Linked DNA regions of Homo sapiens: region 1 is linked to region 2. Evidence: fine-mapped expression QTL. A gene starts in region 2. The other region holds a variant in brackets. All regions are shown on one strand. Distances are between the middles of the regions.

The links. PIP is the estimated chance that this variant, and not a neighbour inherited with it, causes the effect.
Region 1: its variant is fine-mapped to the expression of ACSBG1 in whole blood (INTERVAL, PIP 0.96).

The regions. Positions count from the first base shown.
Region 1 is chr15:78,136,234-78,151,390 of GRCh38, forward strand. LOC124903534 (a long non-coding RNA gene) reads right to left here and starts at 12,986. Exons shown (of 2, transcript XR_007064725.1): 1 at 12,875-12,986; 2 at 7,046-11,499. It overlaps IDH3A (isocitrate dehydrogenase (NAD(+)) 3 catalytic subunit alpha), which reads left to right and starts at 13,129. Exons shown (of 11, transcript NM_005530.3): 1 at 13,129-13,197. The coding sequence starts at 13,171. RefSeq lists a silencer at 13,089-13,668. The variant C/T (reference allele first, on the strand shown) is at 6,952.
Region 2 is chr15:78,226,703-78,241,859 of GRCh38, forward strand. ACSBG1 (acyl-CoA synthetase bubblegum family member 1) reads right to left here and starts at 7,863. Exons shown (of 14, transcript NM_015162.5): 1 at 7,669-7,863. The coding sequence starts at 7,799.

The DNA of each region.
Region 1 (15,157 bases), 90 kb before region 2:
CGTCTTCCCTGACATGGCTGTGATTTATAGTGTGTGAGCAGTTACTAGGTCTGCCTCAGTCTCTCTCTCTTTCTCTCTCTCTCCCTCTCTCTCTCACACACACATACCCTGCAACCCCTTGTTTAACCTGGCCTATATCCTAGCACTGAACAGCTTGTCTCTGTTTCTCTAGCATTTTGCACATAGTAGGTTCTTAATGAGTATTTGGTGGATAAATAAATACACACCCTGGGACTGTTTTTTTTTTTGTCCTGAGGAGGGTTATTTTTCCCTCTCAAACACTAAGAAACAGGAGGGCTGGGACCAGGGCTGGGACCACATGTTCGTCTGTATCCCCAGACACAGAGGAATCTCCCAGGGTCTAGCACATGGTCTTAGCAAATGTAAAATCAACACCCTTTAAAAGAGTACATTTTCCTGGACCTGTTCATACATTTAATCAACTAGATCCCCAAATATTCTGACTTGAAAAAGATTTTCTTACTGGAGGATTTAGTGACCAGTCGTTTAGCGCAGAGCCAACAGAATGAAACCCCTTTCTCTCTTCCGGGAGACTGACCTGCCCTAGAGCCTTCCCCAGAAGCTACTCTGGATGTGAGAAGTTACTGGATGGCTCAAATGGGACCCCAGCTGGATGGCGACTGTCCTGTTGTTGAGGGAGGAGGGGGTCAATTTCCTCCACAAATCTGCTTCTTCTGGATCGTGTCCCACCCACCTCTTGGATGCCTTTGACATCTTTGGAGGCACCCTTGATTTCTCTCCTTCCCTCAGACCCCTCAGTCCATTAGCACAGCCAGTCATATCTAGAAGCCAGCCACTTCTTAGCACTCCATTGCTATCACTGTGGTCCACGCCCCCCTCACCTCTCTCCTGTTATGGCCGTATCTATCATGAAATGACCTAAACCAATTCATCCACAACTAGGTTCATTTTACTGCAGATCTCAGTAATCTCCAGTAATGAGTGGTAGGTAGGGGTGTTGTGTTTCCTTCCACAAACCTTGCTATGAGGGGGTCTGAGGCAAGCAAGTCTCAGACTGAAGTCCACACCTTGTACCATCACTTATCAGCAAGCAGGTCCCCAACAGTCATATAACCTTCTCTATGAGCTCAATGAAGGCCTAGCTCCCTGACCTTTTGCATATTTCAATAAACTTTCCTCTTGAAAGATTTAGTTCAGGCTGGGTGCAGTGCTCATGCCTATAATCCCAGTACCTTGGGAGGCTGAGGCAGGAGGATCACTTGAGCTCAGGAGTTTGAGACCAGCCTGGGCAACATAGTGAGAACCCCATCTCTAAAAAAAATACAAAAAATAGCTGGACGTGGTGGCACACGCCTGTAGTCCCAACTACTCAGGAGGCTGAGGTGGGAAGATCACTTGAGCCTGAGGGGTTGAGGCCGCAGTGAGCTGAGATTGCACCACTGCACTCCAGCCTGAGCAACAGAGTGAGACTCTGTCTCAGAAAATAGGGGGGAGGGATTTCATTCAAGGAAGTTGCAAACAATATTTAAGGAGCAAGATTTGAACAACCTTCAATTTGGGATCAGGCAACTGCATTCTTACTCAGAAGCTTGAACCTGACCAGACGGACTCCTAAGACCTAGACCCCATCAAAACTCCCTAGGTTTTTGTGTCCTGTCTGTCTGTGTAAGGGCAGAGGTACTTGGACAACCCTTCACATATCTAAAATACCACTCATTTGATCAATGGACAATTATTTCAGCCATCCATTTTGCTAATGAACAGACCCTCTGCTGCTGGAATGGCATCAAGACAGCTGAAGCCCTTGTGGAAGGGTCTCTGGAGTGTGGGCTTCTGGGTAAAGTCCCAACTGCTTCTAGAATGGCCTCTCTCAAAGTGTGATCGTGGGTCTCCTGGGGTCTCTGGGATCTTTTCAGAGAGTCTGCAAGGGCAACAATATCTCATAATAATACTGAGACATTATTTGCCTTTTTCATTCTCATTTTCTCACAAGTGTAGAGTGAAGATTTCCAGAAGTTATATGGGTATGTGATATTGCAACAGGTTGAATGAAGAAGCAAATGTGAGAATCCAGCAGTTTTCTATTTTGTTTTTGTTTTTTTGAGACAGAGTCTCGCTCTGTCACCCAGGCTGGAGTGCAGTGGTGTGATCTCTGCTCCCTGCAAGCTCTGCCTCCCGGGTTCATGCCATTCTCCTGCCTCAGACTCCCGCCCGGCTAATTTTTTTGTATTTTTAGTAGACACAGGGTTTCACCATGTTAGCCAGGATGGTCTCGATCTCCTGACCTCGTGATCCGCCTGCCTCAGCCTCCCAAAGTGCTGGGATTACAGGTGTGAGCCACTGTGCCCAGCCCGAGCAGTTTTCTATTAAGCCAAGCTCTAAAGACATTTGCAAGCATGTAAAACAATGCCACTCTTCTCAATAAATATTTTTGTCTTCAAATATATGATTATTTTTCATAAAAGTCTGTTAACTAAGCCAACATATAATGGTTTTGTCTTTGCAGTGGGTAGGAAGAACCCATCGGGTGATTACACTTGCCAAGCTTTCAGTATCAGAGAGGAAGGTGGGGGTGTCCGTAGGGTGAAAATAGCACCCCAAATGTCTTAGATCCTCATACTTTTTTTTTGAGATGGAGTCTCACTCTGCCACCCAGGCTGGAGTGTAGTGATGTAATCTCGGCTCACTGCAACCTTGGCCTCTCAGGTTCAAGCAATTCTTATGCCTCAGCCTCCTGAGTAGCTAGGACTACAGGCGCCCACCACCATGCCCAGCTAATTTTTTTTTTTTTTTGTATTTTTTTTGTATTTTTTTTTTTTGTAGAGCTAGGGTTTCACCATGTTGGCCAAGCTGGTCTTGAACTCCTTACCTCAGGTGATCCGCCCACCTCGGCCTCCCAAAGTGCTGGGATTACAGGCGTGAGCCACCGCAACTGGCCAGATCCTCATACTTTTTAAGAACAGGCTGCTTTCATCATCAAGAGGAGCTCTTCATCACACTTAAGGTGGTTCTGCAAGACCTCTGGGAGAATCCCAGTGAGCTGGGGTCCCTGTGTCTGTAGAGGCCTGGCATCATGGTTTACACAAAAGGAACAAAAGAAACTACCTGGGAATCCCTTAACCCTTCCCAAGCTCTATCAACTCAGGTCACATTGATGTCTCTGAAGCATCTTGTCATAATATGAACTGTCTTCCAGAGCTATCTTTGTGGCTCTCCCAGGCTACTATGGGTTCCTCAGAGGCAGGCCCTGAATGATTAGATGTTCATTTCTGTGTTTGGAGGATTGTTGGGAAGTTTGTGTAGGGAGGGTTCTCATTTAATCAGTTTCCCTGCATCTTCTGATCTGATCAGCCCAGGAGAATGGGAGCTTCAGCAGGTCTGTGTGACCGCAACCATTCTTGTGTTGCTATAAAGAAATACCTGAGACTGGGTAATTTATAAAGAGGTTTAATTGGTTCATGGTTCTGCAGGCTGTGCAGGAAACATGGCTTCTGATGAGGCCTCAGGAAGCTTTTATTCTCGGCAGAAGGTGAAACAGCAGCTTGCGTAACACAGGTGGAAAGCAGGAGCAAGGGGGAGGTGCCATACACTTTTAAATGACCAGATCGCACTATAACTCACTATCACAAAGACAGCACCAAGCCATGGGGGACCTGGCCCCAAACACCTTCCACCAGGCCCCACCTCTAGCATTGGGGATTACACTTCAACATGAGATTTGGGCGGGGACAAATATCCAAAGTATATCAAAGTCTTTTGTCATTCTATTAGCTTCAGCTTACTCAAACATCTTTAAAGATGTTATAAGGTGTCACATTAATCAGAGAGTCTTCTGAATTCTCCGTGGGAGTGTTAATAACTCCATTTTACAGGTGAGAGAATGGAAGGTCAAATTCACACATCTGGAGAGTGTCAATGTGAGAACTGGGACCCAGGTTTGCCTGGAGGATCTTCCACTATTGCCCTGGCACCTATACTGAGAATAAATGTTGTCCCTTTGAAAGGGGCAGCTAGTTCCTTTGTTCACCCCAGAGACTATGAGAATAGGCTTTCAAGTATTTACTCCATTAACCTTGCAGCCCAAGGCTCAGCTACTCCAGGAAGAGAGAGGGACTGGGAGTCAGTATCTGCTTTGAGGGAAGTTTTATCACTTTTTATAGCAACCTCTGAACTTGACCCATGGACTTAGGCAGATAGAGCAAAGCCAGTCCCTGCAGTATAAACAGATGGGAGATAAGTCAGGTCAATTTGATTTGATCAACACCCCTGATTGCATTTATTTCCTTATTTCTAGGCTGGCTCCAGAGATGCTATCCCCAAATGGGCCTCTGGAGGACAAATCTTTTGGTGAACATTCATTAAGCAAAATAATGCACTTATGAGTAAAGCACATGGTGACTTGGATGGTGTGCCATTACCTCCCCAGGACAGAGTCCAAACTGCTTGCCATGATAGGTGCATGTGGTCTGGATCCTGCCTTTCCCCACTTCTTCCCACCTGGCCCTTTGTTCCTGGTATCCTTTCTGCCTGGCACTCCTTTTCCTTCCCTTCTTTCTGTTTGGAAAATTGGCCTCCCTTAAGTCTTGTCTGCTTGTAACAATCTCTGCTTTAACCCCCATGACACTCTCATCTCCCCTAGTTCTTGAGGTACCCCAGGCTTAGAGGACCCACAGACCCTGGAATCCATATTACAGCATTTGTTTCAGTGGATTGGGATCAACTGTTTGAATATTTACCCTCTAGATCAGTGTTCGTATGGGAGGGATACTGCTCCCTAAGGAATGTTTTGAGCTGTATGGGTGTTTTGTGGATGCAATGACAAGAGGGTACTATTTCCACTTAGTGCCTGGGTTTTGGGGATGCTGATGTTCTGTAATGCCGGGACAATCCTGCCCACTGGAGAATGTCTCATGTCCTGCAGGACCTTGAGGAGATCAACCAGATACTCCTGTAGGAAACAAACCTGTTTATAATGACCTGAGCTTGGAACCCAACTCTGTTTTATAAATAAACTCCTTTTTGTGTGATCTTAACATATGTTCAGTTATCCAGGAATGCAAATCAAGGGAAGACTAAAATTTACTTTGTTCAAAACTTTAACAAGACTCGATCACCATTTTGGAGGTAACATCGGAGATGGCAACGTGACTTGTGATTGAGAAAGAAGAAATTAACCCAGATGCCTGTGGCAACTAAGAATTTTGCTTGATGTGGCCTGGTGCAGCAGCTCATGCCTGTAATCCCAACACTTTAGGAGGCTGAGGCGGGAGGATTGCTTGAGCCCAGGAGTTCCAGACTAGCCTGAGCAACATAGCAAGACCCTATCTCTACAAAAAATTAAAAAGTTAGCTGGGAGTGGTGGCTCATGACTGCATTCCCAGCTACTTGGGAGGCTGAAGTAGGAGGATTGCTTGACCCTGTCTCAAAAAAAAGAAAGAAAAAGAATTTTGCTTGACCCCATACAACACACCTGTATTCATCTGCATTTGTGAACGTCACCATCACTGTGATTCATGGTCTATTAACATCTACTTTTTTAGCTCTTATTTTTAAATGTCAAAGATAAAAACTGTGGCCTGAATATTATCATACCTCTCTCAAATCCAAACTTACTTGTTATAAGTAGGTGCAAGCATGTGACTGCTTCATAATGTCTTTTAGAGTTTAGGCCTGAGCATTTATGTATTGAAACCCATTATTTTATTACAGTATTCCTTTTATTTCTCTTTCATATTACAGTAGCAGCATTATATTGATTTTGTTTTTTCATTATGTGTATAAGTGGTTTAGATTATCCATGAATTTCGTTTCAGTATGGTAAAGAGGATATTCAAAATATTTGTTATAAAAAGGGAGCATCTGGCAGCATTGAGAACCACTCTAAGGTTCAGGAGGCAGGGACTTCGCCTCCCCTGGGTTACTCCATTCTTCTTTGTGCCTAGCATAGGGCCTGGAATATCACAGATGCACAAAGAATCTTTTCTGAATGAGTGATGAAGGAATTGAGGCTGATACTCTGGTTTGGTAACCACCTAGGTATGTGATGAGGCCCTCTGCTGAGATGGGAACACAGGAGAGAGGGCAGGTTTTGGGGAGAGTAATGAGTTCAGTTTTCATTGTGAAAGTTTGGAGAGCCCTGGAATTTCTAGGTGGAGAGGCCTGAGGCCCAGGGCTGTGTGGGCCTTGATTTCTCTCAAGGCCACAGAAGAGTGGAAAGTGCAAAGTCGTAGTAACAGTTCATCTCTTTAGTCAGTAATCATTGCTGAGTCTCTCCATGCAGGATGAATAGACCAGTGAGAGCTGCCCATGAGGTGTCTCCCTCCTCCTGTGGTGATCTGTGTACCTGCCCAGGCCCTCAGAGGCTAGGAGCTCCTCCAAGGTAGGGGATAGAAATCCTTCATCTCTAGCCCCTCTGACTTCCTGCCCCATCCTGACATAGTAGGTGGCTCGGCAATGATAGCTGGAGGGACCACGCAGTAAAACCCATCTGTGGAAACACATGTATTCAGAGCAACTTTTTTTGGCCTGAAGTCACTGCAGTGGAACATTTGGGAGCAAGTTTCCCCAGGGCCCAGCTCCTTCCCGCTAGGCTCTGCCATGCCTCCTGTTTATTAACAGGGAGGCGTGACAAAGGGAAAAATCTCCTGATTGAAGACTCATCTCAGACATCTTTTCACTCCTCTAGGGAAGGGTGCAATTCTGGGCTTTAATGACATATGACGGGGCAGGCAGTAGAGGTGTTGCGCATTTTAGGCAATACATGTGCTGCTAGAAAGTTGAGGTATAGGGACTTTTTAGGAACACAATTTTTATTGACAAGTAACCTTTCAAGAACAATAAAGAAAATCAGAAAGAAAACCTATGTTCATAGCAGCATCATTCATAATAGCGAAAACAACTCAAATGGCCATCAACTGACGAACGTATGAATAAAATGTGGTCTATTCATGTGATGGAATATAACTTGAC[C/T]GTCATGAGGAATGAAGGACTGATGCATGCTATGATATGGATAAGTCTTGAAAACATCATGCTAAATGAAAGAAGCCAGACACAAGAGACCAGATATTTTATGACTCCGTTTATATGAAATGCCCAGAGTAGGTGAATACATTGGGATGTAAAAGAGATTGGTGGTTGCCAGGGTCTGGGAGAGGGGAGATGGGGAGTGGCTGATGGAACAAGCCATATGGAAAAGCATTCCAGGCATTGGGAGCAGTAAGTGCAAAGGCCCTGCAGTGGGAGGAAGCATGGCCGATTAAAGAACAGCAAGGAGGTAGGTCGGCTTCAAGGGAGACAGTGGTGGGGGAGAAGCTCAGAGAGGGGCTAGCAGGACTAGACCCTTTAGGGCTTTATGGGGCACTGCCAGGGCATTGCCTTTTACTTGGAGAGAGACAGGATGTCGCTGGCAGCTTTGGGCAGAGAAGGATGTATCTGTCTTATGTTTGAACACAATCCCTCTGGCAGGAGATGGATTTTAAGGGGTAGAAGTAGGGAAGCCAGTTTGGGGGCCACTGTGTTGGTTCAGGCAAGAGGTAACTCTGACTTGGACCCTGGTGGCAGCAGCTGCCAAGGGGAAAAGTGTCCAAAACTGAACCTATTTTGAAAACAGCTCATCTTCAGGCTTTTGGCCTCAGCAACTAGAAGGCTGGAGTTGAATTTTATTGGGTGGGGGAATTCTGTGGGAGGGAGCAGGTTTCCTTCTACTCTTTGTTCACATATAAAAAGAAGTTATAAGAGAACATAGATAATAGTTTAAATTTTTATTTTTTTCTGAACATTCAACCATAAACATTTATCAAGATGCTAAAGTCTTCATAATACTCACTTTAAAAATGTTTTTTTTGGCCAGGCGCGGTCGCTCATGCCTGTAATCCCAGCACTTGGGAGGCCGAGGCAGGCGGATCACGAGGTCAGGAGATCAAGACCACCCTGGCTAACATGGTGAAACCCTGTCTCTACTAAAAATACAAAAAATTAGCTGAGCATGGTGGCGGGCGCCTGTAGTTCCAGCTACTTGGGAGGCTGAGGCAGGAGAATGGCATGAACGCAGGAGAATGGCGTGAACCCAGGAGGCGGAGCTTGCAGTGAGCCAAGACAGCGCCACTGCACTCCAGCCTGGGCGACAGAGCCAGACTCCATCTCAAAAAAAAAAATTATTTTTTAATTTTATTTTTAGAGATAAGGTCTTCCTCTGTCATCCAGGCTGGAGTGCAGTGGTGCAATCATGGCTCACTGTAGCCTCTAACTCCTGGGCTCAAGTGAGCCTTCCACCTCAGCCTCCCAAGTGGCTGGGACTACAGGTACATGCCACCATGCCTGGCTAAATTTTTATATTTTGTAGAGACTATGTCTTGCTATGTTGCCCAGGCTGGTCTTCAACTCCTGGCCTCAAGTGATCACCTCGGCCTCCCAAAGTGCTGGGATTGCAGATGTGAACCACCATGCCAGGCCATTGATCACTTTTGAAGGCTGCATGATGGTCCACTTCATTCATTTCCCCTAAATTACATAACCATTTCTTCTGTTAATCATTTAGACTGCTTTTTTCTCTTTTTAGTTTTCAAAATTAAGGATAATTGTATAATGAATATCTTTGTGTTGATGGCTTTTTCTTTCTGGATTTTTTTCCCCAAGAGTTTAATTCTCAGGAATGGATTTACTAGGTGAAAGAGTAAGAACAGTTAATGTCTCTCTTAAGACACATTGCTAAACTGTTTTCCAAAGAGATTGTGGAAATGTATAAGGCCAGCCAAGCAGTGCGCCATAAATTGGATGGTATAAGGCATTGCATTTTATTAATATTTTTAAATAAAAATAATTTTTTTTAGAAATTTGCATGCATTTGACTATTGTTAAGATTGAACATTTATTTAAAAGTTTATTTGGCTGTGAATTGATTATTCAGGTCCTTTTCCCGTTTTGTTTTGTTTTTTTTTTTCCCGAGACGGAGTCTTACTCAGTCACCCAGGCTGGAGTGCAGTGGTGTGATCTCGCCTCACTGCAACTTCCACCTCCCAGGTTCAAGTGATTCTCCTGCCTCAGCCTCCCCAGTAGCTGGGACTACAGGTGTGCACCACCATGCCTCCCTAAGTTTTGTATTTTTAGTAGAGAGGGGGTTTTACTATGTTAACCAGGCTGGTCTTGACCTCCTGACCTTGTGATCTGCCCGCCTCGGCCTCCAAAAGTGCTGGGATTACAGGAATGAGCCACCATGCCCGGCCTATGTTTTTTGTTTTGTTTTGTTTGAGACAGAGTCTTACTCTGTCGCCCAGGCTGGAGTGCAGTGGCACGATCTCGGCTCACTGCAACCTCGGCCTCCCAGGTTCAAGCAGTTCTCTGCCTCAGCCTCCTTTGTAGCTGGGATTACAGGTACCCGCCACCACGCCCAGCTAATTTTTTGTATTTTTAGTAGAGACAGGCTTTCACCATCTTGGCCAGGCTGGTCTTGAACTCCGGACCTCGTGATCCACCCACCTCTGCCTCCCAAAGTGCTGGGATTACAGGCGTGAGCCACCGCGCCCAGTCCCCTTTTCCCATTTATTTACTAAAGTCCTAATACCTTCTTTACCAATTTGTTGGATCTTTTCCTAACTTAGAGATAGGGATGAACCCTTTGCCAATCATATCTTTAATGAAAATAATATTTTAAATAAAGTAGGAAAACTGTTGAAATGAATTTCTTTTGTAACAAAAAATAAACATTTGGTATGTGAATAATGTATATTCTGTTTTGCTGATTTATTCACTTAAAAATTGCTATCTTGATTTTATTATTTATTTATTTGACACAGAGTCTCGCTCTGTCACCCAGGTTGGAGTGCAGTGGTGCGATCTTGGATCACTGCAATCTCCGCCTCCCAGGTTCAAGTGATTCTCCTGCCTCAGCGTCCTGAGTAGCTGGGACTACAGATGCACACCACCACCCCTGGCTAATTTTTGTTACTTTTAGGAGAGATGGGGTTTCACCATATTGGCCAGGCTGGTCTCAAACTCCTGACCTCAGGCGATCCACCCACCTCTGCCTCCCAAAGTGCTGCGATTACAGGAGTGAGCCACCGCACCTGGCCTCTTGATTTTAAAATCTTTTTTTTTTTCCTTAGAGTGAAGCACACCTGGATTGGATAGTGCTTGTTATTACAGATAAGGGTGCACTTTCTAGATTCTTCTCCTGAGTGGCAAAGTTTTCCCACCGTCTTGTCCAAACATACTTTGCTGATGGTATCTCTGGGCACTACACAGTGCAAGGGACAAGGAAAAAGGGCTTTTCCAGAGGAGAGTGACCTGCATCTTGGAGGAACTCTAGAACATGTTCGAGGAATGGTGACTGGGGCTTCTGGAGCCAAGGGCTGACTCAGGGAACAGATCTCAGCTCAAGGTGAGGTCATTTCTGTTTCCTGCATGTCCCTCCAGCTGCTGACATTTTACCTCTTCAAGGACTGATTCAAATGCCATCTCCATTGTGCAATCTTCCTTGATCACCCCCCAACTTCCATCTGAGACTTCTGAGTTTCTCCCTCACTAGATCTGGAGGGTAGGAGTGGGTCTTGTTCATTTTTTGTTCTCACAGTGCACTTGCTAGAGAATGGCTTGGGAAGCCTTTGTAGGATTGGACTGGCCCTCAGCGAAAGTTCAGCAGTTAGGAGAACTGCCTTAGTACTTAGGAAGCTTCCTAGTGTGAATGCCAGCATCATCACTTACTAGCTGTACTTCAGTTTTCTCATAGGGTTGTTGTGAAGATTAAATGAAGACTGGACAAAGTCAGTCAATGTTTATTTCACAATCACTGAGCAGCAAGTATTCCTTGTGTACCAGTCTCTGTTCCAGAAACAACGTCATAAGAGATCATCAAGATTATCTCTGGACTTAAGGCATATCTTCTCTCTATCTCTTTTGAGACAGAGTCTCGCTCTGTCACCCAGACTGGAGTGCAGTGGCATGATCTCGGCTCACTGCAACCTCTGCCTCGTGGGTTCAAGCGATTCTGATGCCTCAGTCTCCTGAGTCACTGGGATTATAGGCATGTGCCAACACGCCCAACTAATTTTTGTATTTTTAGTAGAGACAGGGTTTTGCCATGTTGGCCAGGCTGGTCTCCAACTCCTGACTTCAAGTGATCCACCTGCGTCGGCCACCCAAAGTGTTGGGATTACAGGCGTGAGTCACCACGCCTGGCCCAAAGCTTATCTTCTCAATGGCACACAGCAGAAGAGAATGTGATGTTTCCCAGGAGAGGTGGGAGCCAAGTGCTAGAGGGCTCTGAGTAAGGAGAGGGGGACACATTCGTGGGTCTTGGGGGCTTTTACAACTTTTACTACTTCCCAACATGTAAGCTGAGTCTTGACAAGGAGCTAGAATTTCAGCCAGTAGAAGTGGGGCAAGAGGGCATTGAGGCTGAGGGAATGGCACGACCATAGGCACGGAGAGGTAAAATATGGGAAGCATTTGGGGGCTGGCCAGCAGTCCTAGTTGGCAGGCGCTCCAGGTCTTTGGGGCTGGAAGGAGTGGTGGGAAATCAGGCTGAAAAAAGACAGTGGTGTGAGAGGAGAGTGCAAGGGAGAGCCAGGAGGTTTCAGAGCCGGGGCGAGCCCTGGTCAGAGCTGTGCCTGAAGGGGAGGGCAGGTTGGCAGGTGAAGAGGCTGTTGTAAGAGCCTGGGCCTGAGGTGGTCTGGCCCGAAGGAGGGCAGGGGTGACATTGGGGATGGAGGAACTGTGGGAGAACACTTCAGGATGGGACTGCCAGGGCCTGATGAGGGGAAGGGGCCCAATGGAAAGGGGTTGATAAAAGCCCTCCTTCCTGACAAGGCCACAGACTTAGCTGCAGTTTATTATTTAGGTCATAAAAGCTCTTGGGATCACTTCTCTACTGCACTCATCACCTCTCTGGGTGGGTAGGCAGCTCCTCTCTGGATAGAACTCTTCCCAGGGTAGGGTAGCAGAGACCTGGTTTAAACACCTGACCTCCCCTGGCACCCAGCTAGAGGCCTGGCCATCAGCAGGAACTCAGGAGTTTGTGATGGACAGGGAGAGGACAAGGGGAAAGGTGAGTATGGATGTTATTTCTTCAGAGAAGCATTCCCTGACCTCCAGGTTAGGTTTGAATCAGGTTGCCTGATTTTGCCTTGCCATAGCTCCTTGCTCTTTTGCTTCTTGGCGCAACAGTTTTAATGACATGTGTGTGACACTTGATTGAAGCCTGTCTTTCCTACTGGACACTAAGCCCCAGCACTTAAAACAGTGCCTGGTGTCTAGTTGACCCTCAGAAATATTTGTTGAGCTAAATAGACAGATTAGTAGTTGCCTGGGATTGAGGACAGGAGCGGGATTGACTATAAACGGACACAAGGAACATTTTCATATGCTCAAAAACTGGATTGTGGTGATGGTTGTGCAACTGTTTACATTTACTAAAAATCATCAAACTGTACACTTACAGTGAGTAAATGTTACTATATATACATTATACCTCAATAAAGCTGGTAAAAAATAAAATTCGGCCAGTCGCAGTGGCTCACTTTGTGAGCCTGGGGCAAGCAGATCGCTTGAACTCTGGAGTTCCAGACCAGCCTGAGCAACATAGCGAGGCCCCATCTCTACGGAGAAAAAAAAAAAAAAAAAAAAAGAAAAAGAAAAGAAAAAACAAAGTTGGGCTGGGCTTAGTAATTACTTGATCCCAGGAGGTCGAGGCTTTGTAGTGAACCTGTTCGCGCTACTGCACTCCAGCCTGGGCGACAGAGTGAGACCCGGTCTCAAAAAAAAAAAAAAAATCAAAATTTGTGGAATAAGAAAATTATGTGTCTTTCTCCACGGGATTGTAAATTCTATGAGGAGCGCTATATCCCCAAGATCCTAGAACATTAATCAGCACCTAGTAGGTGTGGAACAAACGTCTTACCTTAACAGCGAGTCAATGAACCAGGGAGGGGAGGAAGAAGCTTTCCCGGAGATGCCGGCCCCTCAGTTTCCGGGTTCGCCTGGCGCTCAGCCAGGCCAGTCACAGAGAGACGAGCCCGGCGATTCGCCAGCGGAATGTCCAGGGGCGGGGCAGCGAGCGAGCGCGAAGCAATCCTGAGGCGGTCTAGGGGGCGGGGCGTTCAGGGGGCGTGGCCGTGCAGGGGCGGGCTCCGAGCGTGGGGTGGGCGCTTGCGCACTGCCGCTGCGGCTGTTGCTGCGGAGCCAGGAGGGGAAGCGATGGCTGGGCCCGCGTGGATCTCTAAGGTGAGCGCTGGCAGGCCGGCGTGTGGCAGGCAGGCAGGCCGCGAGGGCTGGCAGGAGAGCCGGTCGCGTGCCGGGTGTGGGCGGGCGCGTGGGCCAGACAGGGAGGCGGTGGCTGCCCGCGGGGACAGCTTGGGAGCCGGTCCTGGTCGCCCGTGCCCCGCGCTCCGTGGCCGGCTCGCAGTGTATGGGCCGCCCCGGGCCGGGTCAGCAGCGCAGAGGCGGGGACGGCGTCAAGGTCAAGGCGGGGGGGCGCCGGCCCTGCTCCTGCCGAGACCCGGCTGCCGTCACCCGCATCCGCCCAGGCCAGAGCCCAGGCTTCGCGCCGAGCCCGGGAAGGTCACGGGAGCCTCTGTCCCGGCTCCGCCATCCGGGCCGCTTCCCCGGCTGCGGCCCTGCTGCGGGACTGATCCCCTCAGCACTGCCCACACCTCTCATCCGCTGTCTGCGCGGCCCTTGGCCGGGGAACCGCAGGTGCCACGGGCACTGGCGTTGAGCTTGGGAGGTTTTCCCAGGTGAGAGAATCCGGGGGCCCTTTTCCCTATCAGATTGTTTTCCCTTTGGCGCTCTTCCCAGTCAGACCTCTAGTGCTCTTGTAGCTATTTCCCCTTCATAGGATAGGGCATCTTACACCTCGGAATTACCGTCTGAACCTTCGGAGAGAGAGACCAGCAGAGCCTTCCTTTTACCTTTCATTGGTGGGAATCCTGCAATCTGGAGCGCTTTAGCTCTCCTTGACAGCTCAGATGCCAGAGCTGGAAAGGGTTTCAGATCATCTATGCAGTTCCGTAGCTTCTCAGTGGAACTAACCTGTGCCTGAAGAAGAATTTGCTCAAGGTCACACAGGAGGTCGGTGTCAGAGCAGGGAGAGGAACCTAGGTGTCTTGGTTCCCATTTCCCAAGGTCACATAGCAAATGATGGTACAGGCCATCAGGCCTCAAGTCTCCTGTTGCTATGAAAGGGTGGTCCCCTAGAAATCTATAAACAATTTAACGTTTTTCTGTAAGTTTGATACTACTTTTCTCCCATTTTTTCGGTTTAAAGAGAGGTCCAGAGATGCACTGTTATTTAAGGAAAAGATCTCTGTACTGGAATTTAGGAGTCTCAGATTTAAATCCTAGCAATGCCACTGATTGGCTGTGTGACCCTAAGCAAATTACTAAACATCTCTAAGCCTTAATATGCCCATCTGTGAATATCTATACTTACATCACAGAATTGTTTGAGTATTAAATAAAATAATGTATGTGAAAGCACTTGGTATGTACAGAAGGAAAACAAAAATCTGAAGCTTTCTTATCAATATGTTTATCTGTCTCCAACAGACAGTGGTTTTCATGGGCATCATTAACTGGTTTTTTTGTTCAATAACTAGATTCTACTTTGTCACCCTCTTCAGACCCAGATTTGCTTGTGATGATAACTCTTATGTCACATTTGCTCCTAAAAGTAAAGCAACTTCTGTGTCACTGTGAAAACTGAACTCAGTCCTTTAATCTCTGAACTTACATTTAACACCCAATTCATCTTTGGTAGGTACATTTGCCTTCACAGTGAGGCACTAAAGCAACACTTGATAATGATTGTGCTGGTAAATCTGTTTTGCCTTTAGTGTGATCTGCATGAAAAAACCCTCATAGTAGGTATTCAGAAAGTGTTGGGTTGTGGAGTCAGAAGATGAGGTTCTCTGACATGCACTCCCTGTGTGACCTTTGGCAGAGTCATTTGACTTCTGGGCCAGCTTCTCACTTTAGGGATTGGAGCAGAAGGTGGCTCAGAGGCTGACCCCAGGATGGTGGAGGTGCTGAGCTGGATGCCGGTTTCAATCAGGACAGTTCCTCTGTTGAGTTTCCATTTCAGGTTGTGGCCAGGCATGGTGGCTCATGCCTGTAATTCTAGCACTTTGGGAGGCCAAAGTGGGCGGATCACTTGAGGTCGGGAGTTCAAGACCAGCCTGGCCAA
Region 2 (15,157 bases):
GAAATAGGCTGACACAAATGTGGTAAATTTTTGATAAAGGAGCCAAGCAATTTAATGTAGGAAATAGTAGAACACATAGAAAAATATATATATATATATAATATATATATATGACCTTGAAATAGCAAAGATTTCTTAGAGAGGGCACAATAGCACTAACCATAGAAGAAAAAAACTAGGTAAATTGGGCTTCATTAAATAAAAAAAAAATTTGCTCATCAAAAGACACACCATTGGCCAGGGGTGGTGGCTCACACCTGTAATCCCAGCACTCTGGGAGGCCGAGGAGGGCAGATCACTTGAGATCAGGAGTTCAAGACCAGACTGGGCAACATGGTGAAACCTGGTCTCTACTAAAAATACAAAACTTAGCTGGGCATGGTGCCACACGCCTGTAGTCCCAGCTACTTGAAGGCTGAGCCACGAGAATTGCTTGAACCTGGGAGGCAGAGGCTGCAGTGAGCCGATATCATGCCATTGCACTCCAGCCTGGGTGACAGAGCGAGACCCTGTCTCAAAAAAAAAAAAAAAAAAAAAAAAAAGATACACAATTAATAAAATGAAGATAAGCCACAAACTGGGAAAAAATATTTCCAATACATATATCTGACAAAATATAACCAGAATATATAAAGAATGCCTACAAATCAATAATAAAAGGATTAAGAACCCAATTACAAAATGAGCTAAAGATTTGAAAAGATAATTTACAAAAGAAGACATGGAAATAACCAATAAGCACATGAAAATATGCTCAATATCATTGATCATCAGGGAAATTTAAATTAAAATCACAGCAAGATATCACTATTCACCCACCAGAATGAAACTAAAAAGAGTAACAATACCCACTGTTGACAAAGATGTGGGAACTTCTGGCAGCTTCTTTAAGCACACACCTATCTTCTGATCCAGTAATTCTATTCCTAGGGATTTACCCAAGAAAATGAGAACATATGTCCACAAAAACACCTTATACAAGAATTTCATAGCAGCTTTACTCATAAAATCCTCAAACTGGAAACAACTCAAATGCCCATCAATAGATTAATGGATAAAAAAAATTGTAGTATAGCCACACAATGGAATTCTACTGAAACGTACAGACGAATGAACTACTGAGACACTTGGCAATACTGATCAATCTCACAAACATTTCGATGAGTGCAAGGAGCCAGACAAGTAACATTCTGTGTGATCCCAAGCATGCCATCCTCAAGAACACCTGGAACATTGGCTGTTCAGAACAGTGGTTACTTATGGGAAAGTGAGGGTGGAGATTGATTAATTGACTAATCTCTTGCCTTAGCCTCCTGAGTAGCTGGGATTATAGATGCATGCACCTCCACACCCAGCTGACATCTAAATTCTTATTTTACAGCTGCTCGGGGCCAGAGTCTGAGCTAGGCCCTAGATGTCCTTCACATGGTCACAACCTTTACAGTTTCCAAAGCACCTTCCCAGCCCTGTTCTAAAGTGTTCCTCACAGGCTCCTTTCCAAGGAGCCAGAATTGTCTGGGTAGGAGGCCAGAGCTGGGATCCAGGGGTCTCTCACAGGACCCAGTGTGAGATAGGGTTTTTTTCTACCACCACTGGCCCTAGATGAAACTGTGCTTTTGCGGAGCTGAAGAGGTAAGTAGTGAGTTCCCCTTCCCTAGAGGTAATCAGGTCAGAGTAGATTGATAATATGTGAATGTTGTAATACAGTGGGTTGGACTTAGTGACCTAAAAAACCTGCTTGCCTTGTACTCTGCCATTCAGGGGCTTGCCTGGAGACAGTGGGTTAGCTTTGGGCCCAGATCCTGACTTCAGGTCAGTTTGAGCTCTGCTGCCCCTGGCTAAAATCTCTGCAGCTCCTGAGAGGACTACCGCTGGCTTGGGCGGACTTGCATTCGGAAGTTATCCAGATCCGTACTCAGAAGTCTAGGACCAGGGTTGGTTTGCCCTAGAGACTCACGCTTTCCATGGATGTGCCTGACCCCTTTGATCTTGGGCTCTTGACACCAGCACCTTGATTTCCTGTGGCTTTTACATGATAGTCCCAAATCTGCCCTGTTCCCACTGGCTTTTAGTCTCTTGAACACTACAAGCTCCATCCCACCTCGGGGCCTTTGCACATGCTGTGCCCATTTCCTAGAAAGTTCTTCCCCTAGCCAACTCCTACTCCTGTTTCATGTCTCAGTTTAAATGTTGCTTTACCAGGAGAGCCTGCACCAACCCTCAAGACCAAGTCAGATCTTCGTTATATTCTATTTTTTTTAATTACCGACATTTTAAAAAAATGTTTGTATTGTGGTAAAATACACATAACATAAAATTTTCCATTTGAAATGTTTTTAAGTGTATAATTCAGTGGCATTGATTATATTCCCTTTTTTTTTTTTTATTCATTCATGGCACCTGTCACAATTACAGTTTAATTGTATAATTATTTGTTAATGTCTGTCTCCCCTGCAAGCATGCAAACTCCTTAAGGTAGAGACTTGTTTTTGTTTTGTTATATTCTTCAGTGCTTAGCGCAATGCCTGATTATTCTACAATAAACAATTTTGAATAAATGAATGCATTCTTAACAAAAACAAAGAAAAACAGTAAAGAAACAAAAACATGAAACAACTGTGTTTTTTACATAATGGGAAGTGGGCAGTGGGAGTGGGAAGAATTTCAGCACTAGAAAGCCCAGATAGTCCATGTTTAAGGACACTTGTGTTCTTTCAGTGACATTCGCCTTACGATTGCCCCTCGTAGGCTAGCACACCCCAGAGAGGCAGAGCGCACTCTCTGTCATCCTGGGAAAGCTCTGTCAGTGGGAACAGCCTTGCTCATGGGGCTTGTAGCAGCCTCCTGCGACCGTTCCACATCCCTGGCTCTTAGGGGGCTCCTCTCTGCACCCAGTCTTTGGGTAGGCAGCGCCGGGAGAGTCAGCTAGGAGCCCAGAGTGAGTGTGGTCACTTCAGAGCCTGACAGCCCTCCCTGGGCCAGATGGGACCCTTGGAGCTCCCAAGTCCTGGCCTCCTGCCTCCACCTCACCCCTAGTCCAGCCTGTACTCACTGCTGCTAGATTCACAAACCCCAAACCAGGCTCTCCCCAGGCTTCTGCTGCTTGCACCCCTCCCAGGGTTCCTGTCTGCCTCCTTCTTTGAGCCTGGCTGCCCTTAGTCTGGCCACGTCAGCCTCTCTAGGCCCAGGAGTTAGCCGGTCCCCAACCTGACCAGTCTCATGGCCACCCGTAACATCTTCACAATCATGCCTTTGGTCAGCACAGCGCCCTGCTTGCCATCCGGGCATCCACAGCCTTTCAAACACAGGATGGACTGTCCTCTTCTGAGGTTCCTTCCAAGCCCTTCCTCCACAATGGGCTTCCTTAGGCTCAGGGAGACCGGTGTCTCCACTGGACAGAGGGCTTCCCAGGGTCAGGACCCAGGCCCTGGGCAGGCTCAAGGGGTGTCCCTGATGGAGGGCATGGTCTACAGCCACAGCCTCAAGGGCACAGAACACAAGCTGCCAGAGCAGGGCCAGTGTTAGCTCAGACCCCACGGGTTTTGCCTCTCCTGGCCCTGGCCTGGCTGTTTCCTCCGGACACCTGCCCCAGTCACTGGGATCCAGCCCTGCAACTTGTGTGGCAGGGAAGGGAACTCTCGTGGGTCAGGCCAGGGTGCAAGCCCTCCTCGGGCTCTCAGCCTCCCCTTTCTTCCACCTCCTGTCTTCCCCTCTGCAACACTGGGAAGCAGGGGGAAGATAAGCCCCTCTCAGGCTATGGAGGAATGCAGACCCGCCTTTCCCCAGGAGCAGCCACCATGGCCACAAGGTCAGGGCAAACGGGCAGGACTGAGATAGAGCCCTTCTGATATGGTCTGGCTGTGTCCCCACCCAAATCTCATCTGGAATTCCCATGTGTTGTGAGACAGACCAGGTGGGAGGTAATTGCATCATGGGGGCAGGTCCTTCCCGTGCTGTTCTCGTTACAGTAAGTCGCACAAGATCTGAGGATTATTATAAGGGGGAGTTTTTCTGCTCAAGCTCTCGTCTTGTCTGCTGCCATGTGAGATGTGCCTTTCGTCTTCTGCCATGATTGTAAGGCCACCTCAGCCACATGGAACTGTAAGTCCAATAAACTTCTTTCTTTTGTAAACTTCCCCGTCTCAGGTATGTCTTTATCAGCAGCGGGAAAACAGACTAATACACCTTCCCTCCTGGAGTTGGCCCAGAGGAGCAGAGAAGCAGAAAGGGGCATCACAATGGTCACAACAATGATCTCTCTGCCTTATTTATCTAGTTTTTGAGACAGGGTCTTGCTGTGTCACCCAGGTGGAGTGCAGTGGTGCCATCATGGCTTGACCTCCCGGGCTCAATTGATTTTCCCACGTCAGCCTTCTGAGTAGCTGGGACCACAGGTATGTGCCACCACATCTGGCTAATTTTTTTTTCTTTTTTTGAGACGGAGTTTTATTCTTGTTGCCCAGGCTGGAGTGCAATGGCACGATCTCAGCTCACGGCAACCTCTGCCTCCCAGATTCAAGCAGTTCTCCTGCCTCAGCCTCTCAAGTAGCTGGGATTATAGGCATGCGCCACCACGCCTGGCTAATTTTTTTTTTTTTGTATTTTTTTAGTAGAGACGGGGTTTCTCCATGTGGGTCAGGCTGGTCTCGAACTCCTGACCTCAGGTGATCTGCCCACCTCGGCCTCCCAAAGTACGGGGATTACAGGTGTGAGCCACTGTGCTCAGCTTTTTTGTATTTTTTTAAGCAAATTTTTGTATTTTTTGTACAGACAGGGTTTCAACATGTTACCCAGGCTGGTCTCGAACTCCTGGGCTTAAACAATCCACCCATTTTGTCCTACCAAAGTGCCAGGATTACAGGTGTGAGCCACTGTGCCTAGCCTATTTTTTATTTTTATTATTTTTTTGAGACAGAGTCTTGCCCTGTAGTCCAGGCTAGAGTACAGTGGTTAATAGCTCATTGCAGCCTCACACTCCTGGGCTCAAGCGATCCTCCCACCTCAGCCTCCTGAGTAGGTGGGACTACAGGTGCACACTATCATGCCTGGCCAATTTTTAAATTTTTAGCAGAGACAAGGTCTTGCTTTGTTGCCCAGACTGGTCTTGAACTCCTGCACTCAAGCAATCTTCCTTCCTTGGCCTCCTAAAGTGCTAGAATTACAGGCATGAGCCACTGCACCTGGCTCTCTCTGACTTTAGAACAATGTTTTACAAGAATTAAGTTCTTTTCTCACAGCTGCTCTGCAAGAATGTCAGAGCAGGTTTAGCTTCCCTGTTTGACAGATGGGGAAACTGAGGCTCAGAGAAGGTATCTTGCCAAGGGTCACAGAATGGGTTAGGAGCAGAGCTGGACTGGAACCCAAGGCATGTGACCTCCAGCCTGCTGCTAAGAGTGTTGCTATGAGAGTTACTATGCCTGTGATGGGTAACTCTTATGCTTTGAAAACATTTTCATACACATTAGCTGATGGAATCCACCCAATTTTTCTGCAATGTCAATGAAGTTCAGGCGTTGTATATTTATTTGTACAGAGGATGCTATTGAGGCTCAGAAAGGTTAAACAATGTATCCAAAGTCACTCAGCAAGAAAGTAGTAGAACTGACACTCCAACTCTTGGGTTTTTAGCCTTTCTCTTTCCCTACGGGGTCCCAAGACCCATTTACCCTTTCAGGAGGGAGTCCTTCTCTGCACAAGCCTAGGGTTCTGCCTCAAGTTTGCCTACTTTCCTTCAGTGATGTCTGCAAAACAAGCCCAGTCCTCTGTGAGCTTTGCAGGGCACACAGGACCCTCTGCCACCCCTTTTCACCACAGGCCTGAGACACAGGCTCCTGTGGCCCTGAGCCCCACTTGGCCCCTCACTCACAGGGAGCAGAAGACCCTGAGATCCTGCAGACCTTGATTTTGTTTTCAAAGACTCCCCTGGCCCTGGCTGTCCTCATGCCTGTCTACCCCTGCTCTGGGCACATTTATTTCTTTTTCTTCTTTTTTTTTTTTTTGAGAAGGACTTTTGCTCTCGTGGCCCAGGCTGGAGTGCAGTGGCACGATCTTGACTCACTGCAATTTCCACCTCCCGGGTTCAAGCAATTCTCCTGCCTCAGCCTCCTGAGTAGCTGGGATTACAGGCACGTACCACCACCTGGCTGTTTGTATTTTTAGTAGAGACAGAGTTTCATCACATTGGGCAGGCTGGTCTCAGAACTCCTGACCTTGGGTGATCCACCCGACTCAGCCTCCCAAAGTGCTGGGATTACAGGCATGAGCCATCATGCATGGCCTCTGGACATATTTCGATGTGCTCCTCTGAGCATCTCGCCTGGCCTTCCTGCTCTCTGAGCCCACAGACCCCAGGGAGGAGGGGAGGTGCCAGGACACCGGGGCCCAGAGGAGATCCTGAATCTGCCCTTGGGTGAGGAAGTCAGTCCAGCTTTCTTCCAGGGGCCCTTGACCCTCTGTGCACCTGACCTATGCCCAGGGAGGGGCTTGCCCTCATGCTCTTGGAGGCTTTGCAGGGAAGAGTCCCTGCTTCTGGAAGAACAGGAGTCCACTTTGGATTAGCAGGGTTCTCTGGAGACCCAGGGCAGGGCCCAGATGCCAGCCCTCGGAGGGGCCTCTGCATCTCTGAGGCGCATTAACATCTGTTCCCATTTCCCTCTATCTTCCTTCCCCATAACCTTCCATCAGGACAGGGGCTGTAGTCTTGGTAGCTCAGACACTGGCAATTCCTCCCCATTACTACAGAGGACTTGGACCCTGGTATTTAGCCCCTGTCCTCCCCAGTTCTATGCTTCCGCCACCCAGACCTCTCCCATCCCCAAACTTCCTGTCTTGCTTTGTTAGGTCGTTCTCTCTGCCCACTGCTCTTGGCTCCACTCTGACCGTCAAGGTCCATCTCAGGCGCCCCAGTTAGAAACCTCCTTCTCTCTGCCCCTTCGCCTGCGCCCCTCCTGGACACAAATCACAGATGTTGGGGTCCTGGAGTTCCGTGTGTGTGCGTGTGCGCGTGCGCCTGCCTTCTTCCTGCCTTCTGGCCAGGGCATCCCAGGGCTGGGACTGAGTCTCATCTTCTCAGGATCCCCTACTCCCTGGATGGACAGGGCCTGGGCCAGGGTGGGCATTGGTGAATGCCTGATACGTTGAATCCACTTCCTCTAAATCACAGATTACTGGAATATATACAGTGGAAGGGCTTTAGGGAAACCTCAGCCACTGCACTCATATTCAGACAGGGAAGCTACAGCCCACGGAGGGCAAAGGCACTTGCCAAGGTCACGCAGCAAACTGGAGCGGGAACCTCTGGGTCCCCACCAAAACTTATCTGTCTTTGACCCCCGCAGGCAAAAGTCCCCCTTGAGGAGACAGGGAAACATTCTTGACTGAAAAATTCCTCCTCCATCCAACTGAGATCCAACTGGTCTCCAACTGCAGCCCCAGCTCATACCCCTGGGATGTGCCTCATTCTTTGATGAGCCTTTCTTAGCCATGCTAAGTAGCCCTCCAAATGACCAGTTCTTCCATCTTACGGATCGCCCAGATCCTTCCCTTCATTTCCCAGGTGAAGAAACTGAGGCTCAGAGAGAGAAGCAGCTTGCCCAAGTTCACACAGCAGAGCAAAGTCTAGAACTCGGCCCACAGGTGCAGTGTGCAGAAACCCAACCAATGACTTACCTGGTTTTCAATTTTTCTTGGGTGGTCCTCACAATCATGTCCTGCCGGCTCTCCTGTGGGGTCTCTCTGCTGTCCAGCATGCTGGGGTCCCCGTGTGGGCAGCCGTATCCAGCTCCAGAATTGCGTGGCATCTGCCTCGGGCTTCCACTGAAGACAGCTCAGTCACCCACTGAGAGAGGCTAGCCTTGAGTGAGCAGTGGGGGTGGGCATGGGGCAGGGGAGGCGGCAACTAGAGTGACCCAAAGAGGCTCATTTCCTCTCTATTTTTAGAAGCTCAAAAAAAATTGCTCCTCAGTGAAGTTTCTCAGAATTAAAACTTTCCTTTTCTTTGTGGTTTTGTTTCTCTCAAGATGAGGAGAATTTCAATGAAGCCAGTGTTCTTTTTGATGCAAATCCGCTCCGCTTCTCCCAGGAGGTCTGGCCAATGGGCTCAGGGCTTCTGGGCCCCCAGAAAACCTCCTCACTGGCTTTAAAAGGTCATAGTGGTTCTCAGCACAAATCCAGACCCAGATCCTGAAGTGGCTGCTACCCCTGGCTGCATACACTCTGCAACCTTGACTTGCGGTCTGCCGAATGCTGCCCTGGGAGGGATCTCACCCACTCAGTCCCCCTCCCCCAGGTCCTGCATGGAGGCTGGAGACCCAAGGAGGGAGCCCACCCCGGGGGAAGGAAGGAGACATTTCCAACACTGAGACCACGCCACATGGTCTATAGAAGCAGTTGCACTGAAGACATGATAGAGGCAACCGAGGAATGTGACTTTCCAGGGACACATGAATAGAAGCCTGGATCTGTCCCTTCTTCTAAAGGAAAGAAGCATGTTAAGGGGGGCGGGGGGGTTTCAGGCAGCCATAAAGAGATGGGAAATTCACACAGGACAAGGCCTTTTTCTGAATACCAAAAGTCTCCCCTCTAAGACCATGTATTCATTCCCCAGGGCTGCTGTAACAAAGTTCCACAAACTGGATAGCTTCAAACAACAGAAATGTATTCTCCCACGGCTCTGGAGGCCAGAAGTTGGAAATGAAGATGTGCGCAGGGCCACACTCCCTCTGGGGGCTGTGGGCAGACTCTTTCTTTGCTTCTCTCCCAGCTGCTGGGGGTCACTGGCCATCCTGGGTGTTCCTTGGCTTGCATGTGCATCTCTCCAGCCTCTGCCTCTGTCCTCACGTGGCTGTCTTTCCTCTGTGTCTATGCCTTAGTACATTTTCTGTTGCTATCACTGAATACCTCAGACTGGGTAATTCATAACGAAAATAGGTCGGGTGCGGAGGCTCATGCCTTTAATCCCAGCACTTTGGGAAGCCAAGGTGGGAGGATTGCTTGAGCGTAGGAGTTCAAGACCATCCTGGGCAACATAGTAAGACTTTGTCTCTTCAAAAAATAAAACAGAATTAGCTGGGTGCCACGCCGTGGTGTGCACCTGTGGTCCCAGCCACTTGGGAGGCTGAGGTGGGATGATCACTCAAGCCTGGGAGGTTGAGACTGTAGTGAGCCATGATTGCACCACTGCACTCCAGCCTGGGCAACCAGAGTGAGACCCTGCCTCAAAAATAAAACAAACAAACAAATTTAAAAAAACACCAAAACACACACACACACACACACACACACACACACACACAAAGAAATTGATTTCTTAAAGCTCTAGAGGCTGGAAGTCCAATATTAAGGTGCCAGCATCTGGTGAGGGCTTTCTTGCTACATCATAACGTGGAGGGCATCACATGGTGAGAGGGCAAGAGCGTGGTGCCAGCTCAGGTCTTTCTTCTCTTATAAAGTTTCCAGTTTCAACATGGGACCCCGCCCTGATGACCTTGCCTAACCCTAATTACCTCCCAAGGGCTCAACTTCCAATCAACATATGAATTTTGAGGTTAAGTTTCCAACATATGAAATTTGTTGGGAATTTTCCCACCATAGCAGTCTATGTTCCTATTTTCTCTTCTTACATGGACACCAGTCATTGGAGTAGGGCCTTCCCTGATGCCAAAGAACCTCATCTTAACTATATCTGCAGAGACCCTATTTTCAAACAAGATCACATTCTGAGGCTCTGGGTAGACATGAATTTGCTGGGGGACGCAATTAAAATCCATATACATTGTGTACAGGAGGTGTTAGTGGGGATACCTATGAGATGTCCCCAAGAAGAAATAGGTCCAGTTGGGCCACAGGTGATGCTGTCTGGTGAAGGCAGGTGACTGAGAAAAAGCTGGGCTGCCTTCTAACAAACTCAGGGCACAGGCCACAGGCCCCCAAATGCTGCCTTCCTAATGCTGTTGAAGGTACACTGAGCAGGTCGTCTGGGGTCTAGCTGCAAGGCCTGAATCTCCCACTGACACGCCCTCAACCACGATCTTGGGCAGATCTCGGCCCTCTCCTGGCCTCAGTTTTAACTGCTTGAATCATGAGGGTGATGGCCTGAGGTGGGCCAAAGTGGCCACCAGCTCCAACTGGACGTGAGAAGGTGATGGGGAGTCCTTTGCCCATGGGCTGATTGGAGGGATCGAATGAGTCACCACTGTAAGTGACAAGTCAGTGTCTCCCCACCCGAGGAGAATCATAATCAGAGAAAAAGACATAGAATGCTCAGCTCTGAAGTTCAAAAGCCTTGGTCAATATGAAAGCCTGGGAAGGTTCGGAAAAATGTGTAAGTTGTTCATTCCCAACTCCCCTTCCTTCCCCATCCCTCAGATTCTTATAGATCCAGGGAACCAGGAAGGGGAAGAGAGTCCAAACAGAAGCAAGGCCCTGGGGAGGGCCTTAAGAAGACCTCCCTTGGGCAGATCTTCCAGGTCTGAGCATATCAGGGACCTGAGGTGGCCCAAGAAAGCGACAGGGCCCCAGAGTGCTCAGCGCGGGCCACAGAGAAAAGATGGCTTCAAGGAACCAAAAGCAAAAAGGCCCGGCACACCCTCTCGCCAGGGCAGGCAGTGAACTGAGGGTCAGGTGGCTGCTGGAGGAGAAAGTTGGTGGGCTGGCAACAGAGGCTGATAGGAACAAGGTCATTCTGCAGTCACTGCGAGGAGGGCTGACCCCACCTGGGAACCAGGACAAAGGCAATATATCAACAGAAGCTCAAGGCTGGGACATGGTGCTGAAAAGGTCAGGCTGTAGTGGAGTCTGATTTGGCTGAACTTTTTAAATGGTTCATTTCATTTTGAAAAATAAATACAAGCAATATGCCAGTTATGTCCAGATTCCCTCTCTACTCTCTCCCCTGGTTCTGTCCCCAGAGCTGCCCTGTGTGAGCCTCCCTTGGGCTCCCGGCCTCTGGCCTCTGGTTGTCAGGCCAATGCCAGGTGGTGGCAGGACAGCAGAAGGTAGAGAGAAAGAAAGGTTGGAGTTTTTATTCCTCTCCTTCCCTCCCGGCTGGCCACACTTTTGGCAGCAGCAGCCCCTCCAGCCAGCTCTGGCCTCAGGGGGAACAGTTCCTCCCCAGCTCCTTCAGGTCAGAAGTGTCTACCTCCCTGCAGCTGCCTCACCATCCCCTGTGGCTCCCTTAACACTGTCCTCACCTGTCCCTTCATTTTCTTCACCTACCACTTTTAAGGGGCCATCTCTTGCAGAAAGAACCCTGATTGATACAGTGGAACATGAAAATGTACAAAGGGGACTAACTGCTTGATGGGTATGGGGTCTCCTTTTGGGGTGATGAACATGTTTTGAATCTAGATAGAGATGATGGTTGCACAGCACCGTGAATGTACTAAATGCCACTGAATTGTACACTTTTTTTTTTTGAGACAGGATCTCATTCTGTTGCTTAGGCTGGAACGCAGTGGTGCGACCGTAGCTCGCTGCAGCCTCAAACTCCCAGGCTCCAGTGATCCTCCCACCTCAGCCTCCTGAGTGGCTGGGGCTACAGGCATGTATCACCATGCCTGGCTAATTTTTAAATTTTTTTTGGAGAGACAAGGTCTTGCTATGTTTCCCAGGCTAGTCTTGAACTCCTAGCCTCAAAGGATCCTCCTGTCTCAGCCTCCCAAGGTACTGGGATTATAGGTGTGAGCCACCATGCCCAGCCATGAATCCTACACTTTAAAATGGTGAATTTAATGTTATGTGAATTTCACCTCAATACAATGTTTTAAAAAGTACAAAGGGCTTCATAGTAAAAATTAAATTTTCCTCCCACTTTTCTGTCCCTCTCCCCACCATCCTTCACTCATTTCTTTTCTCCAGAGCCACCACTGTTAAAAATTTCTTTTTTGCATCATTCTAGAAATATCTTGGATATATACAAATGCTAACATATGGCATACACAGTTTCGTGTCTTCTTATACTTGACAACATTTGCTGGAGAACTTTTCATATTTTTGCCTGGAGAACTTCCTGGTTCTCTTTTTGTGGGGTAGGTACAGCATTCCATGGAAGGGCTGGCCCGAGATGCATTTCAACAGCTCTGTAGGATGAACATTTAGGTTGTTTTCAGTCTTTTGCTGTTACAGATGAAGCTGTGATGAATAATCTTATCCTTGCGTGGTTCGTACTTGAGCTAGTCTATCTCTAGGATAAATTCCTAGAAATGGGACGCTAGGACTTGACTAAGTTTAAACTTGAAAATGACCGAGTTTTTGCGAAACTCTTATTGGGTCGGGGGGTCCTTGCTCCCAGAGCTCCCAAGATGGTGGCGGGCCGCTTCCAAGATGGTGGCAAGCCTTGTGTTCTCTGACCTGGGGTTCTTGGCCTCATGGATTCCAAGGAATGGAATCTTGGGCCATGTGGTGAGTGTTATCGCTCTATTAGAAGCCGTGGATCACGGAAGAGAACCGTGGAACCCAGTGACTAGCGTTCAGCTGGATTAGGACAAACCTGGGCACCTAGCTGTGCAGGAACAATGGCAAGCCTTTAGCCGGATCGGGAGCGGCAATGGGTGCCTCATTGGATCAGGAGCACAGTGGACACCCTGCCGGATCCAGACGGATGGCAGTCAGCAGCGGGTCTGCGACAGCGGCAAACAGCAGTGGTGGACGGCGAGCAAAAGCTCAGCTCGAGCGGTAACAAACATGGACCAGAAGAGAATTGCAAGATTTTTTTTTTTTTTTTTTGAGATGGAGTCTTGCTCTGTCGCCCAGGCTGGAGTGCAGTGGTGTGACCTAGGCTCACTGCAAGCTCCACCTCCTCAGGTTCACACCATTCTCCAACTCAGCCTCCCGAGTAGCTGGGACTACAGGAGCCCGCCACCATGCCCAGCTAATTTTTTTGTATTTTTATTAGTGACTGGGTTTCACCATGTCAGCCAGGATGGTCTCGATCTCCTGACCTCGTGATCTGCCCGCCTCAGGCTCCCAAAGTGCTGGGATTACAGGCGTAAGCCACCGTGCCCCACCAGTTGCAAGATTTAGTAGAGTGAAAACAGAGCTCCCATACAAAGGGAGGAGACCCAAAGTGGGTAGCCAGTTGCCAGCTGGAATGCCTGGGTTTATATCCCGATTGTCGTTCCTCCTGCTGTGCTCTCAGGCAATAGATGATTGGCTATTTCTTTACCTCCTGTTTTTGCCTAATTAGCATTTTAATGAGCTCTCTTTATTACCTGATTGGTCAGGTATGAGCTAAGTTGCAAGCCCCGTGTTTAAAGGTGGATGTGGCCATCTTCCCAGCTAGGCTTAGGGATTCTCAGTCGGCCTAGGAAATCCAGCTGGTCCTGTCTCTCAAAACCAACAGATTAAATGTCCTGCCATTAGGAGGAAGGGTGGAGAGCTGTAAAAAAAATTTTTTTTCCATTGAGTTACAGAAAATAAAACTGCAGTTTTGCCCACCTGAGTTTGTCGATTGAGGAAGTTTGTGCCTGCTATGCGTGTAAGGCCAAATGCCTCTGCACCAGCCTCTACTGTCATCGAAGTGATTGCTGCCCTCACTGGTTTTCAACTTCAAGAATTGGCTGGGTGTGGTGGCTCATGCCTAGCACTTTGGGAAGCTGAGGCAGGTTGACTGCCTGAGCTCAGGAGTTCGAGACCAGCCTGGGCAACACAGTGAAACCCCATCTCTACTAAAATACAAAAAATTAGCTGGCGTGGTGCTGTGCACCTGTAATCCCAGCTACTCAGGAGGCTGAGGCAGGAGAATTGCTAGAAGCCGGGAGGCGGAAGTTGCAGTGAGCCAAGATCACGCCACTGCACTCCAGCCTGGGCAACAGAGTGAGACTCCATCTCTTAAAAAAAAAAAAAAAAAAAATCAAGACCACTATTTTCCAATCAATTTCTTTACCACCTTCATTAGTTTTGCCATATTTGGTTTCCCCAGGGGTATAGTACATTATTTACTATTTTTCAACTCCATTTTATAATTTAAAAATGAAATAGCTTTATTCTAAGCAATTGAAGAACTTGTTATATAAATATATACAGATATTTCCCAATGCATGTTGAAATTAACATGAAACTACCTTTTCTTCTTTCTTTTTGAGAGATTGAGGGGGGGGTCTCATCATGTTGCTCGGGCTGGTCTTGAACTCCTGGGGTCAAGCAATCAGCCTGCCTCCCACAACAAAGAGATATTAAGTGTTTTGTTTTTGTTTTTAAAAGCCTTTAAAAAGGCTTGGGTGGGAGGGTCATTGCTGTATGTTTTCAGCATTAGCTTTTCTGGGCCACTTTTTTGTTATCATGCGTATGTATTACCAGGAGACGATTTTTTTTTTCTTTTTAAATTTCAAAATACTGCACCTGGGGCTCTGGATTGAGGCCTCGCAGTCGTCTCTGGGTGCAGGACGAGCAGGAGAACAATGGGCCTCTGCTGACCCCTGCTGGCCAGAGCGCCTCCCACCCACCCAGGTCTCCACAGGACTGGGATCTTGCGCCACTGCCTCCATCCCCAGAAACAGCCGTCCTTCCTCCCCTGCCCCCAGAAGGCCTCCGGCAGCCACCACAGTGTGCTCTGGACATCGAGTCTGGGGCCCGGCTGGGAGACCCTTGTGCTCCAGAGGGCGCTGAGGCTCTGGGCTGCATTTGTGTCCCCTCTGGCCCTGTCTACATCGAGTGGGTGGGGTGTGAGTCCTGGGATCAGAGTATCCTCCAGCTCTAGATAAAACCCGACTTTGGAAGGCCAAGGTGGGTGGATGACCTGAGGTCAGGAGTTCGAGACCGGTCTGACCAACATGGTAAAGCCCTGTCTCTACTAAAAATACAAAAATAAGCCAGGCGTGGTGGTGGGTGCCTGTAGTCCAAGCTACTCGGGAGGCTGAGGCAGGAGAATTGCTTGAACCCAGGCGGTGGAGGTTGCAGTGAGCCAAGGTTGCACCACTGCACTCCAGCCTGGGTGACAGAGACTCTGTCTCAAAAATAAATAAAATAAAATAGATAAAACCCAGAGATTTTTGGAGATTCAAACTCCTCTCCCAGGGACTCACATTCTCTGAGCTATGGGTCACCAGGGCAGAGCTTTCCTGAGAGGAGGGGCAGAAGAACGTAGCACATAGAGGATTCTAACCTGCCAGGACTGAGCTGGGAGTGGGCAATGGAGACCACGGAGGATGGAGGCCTTTGG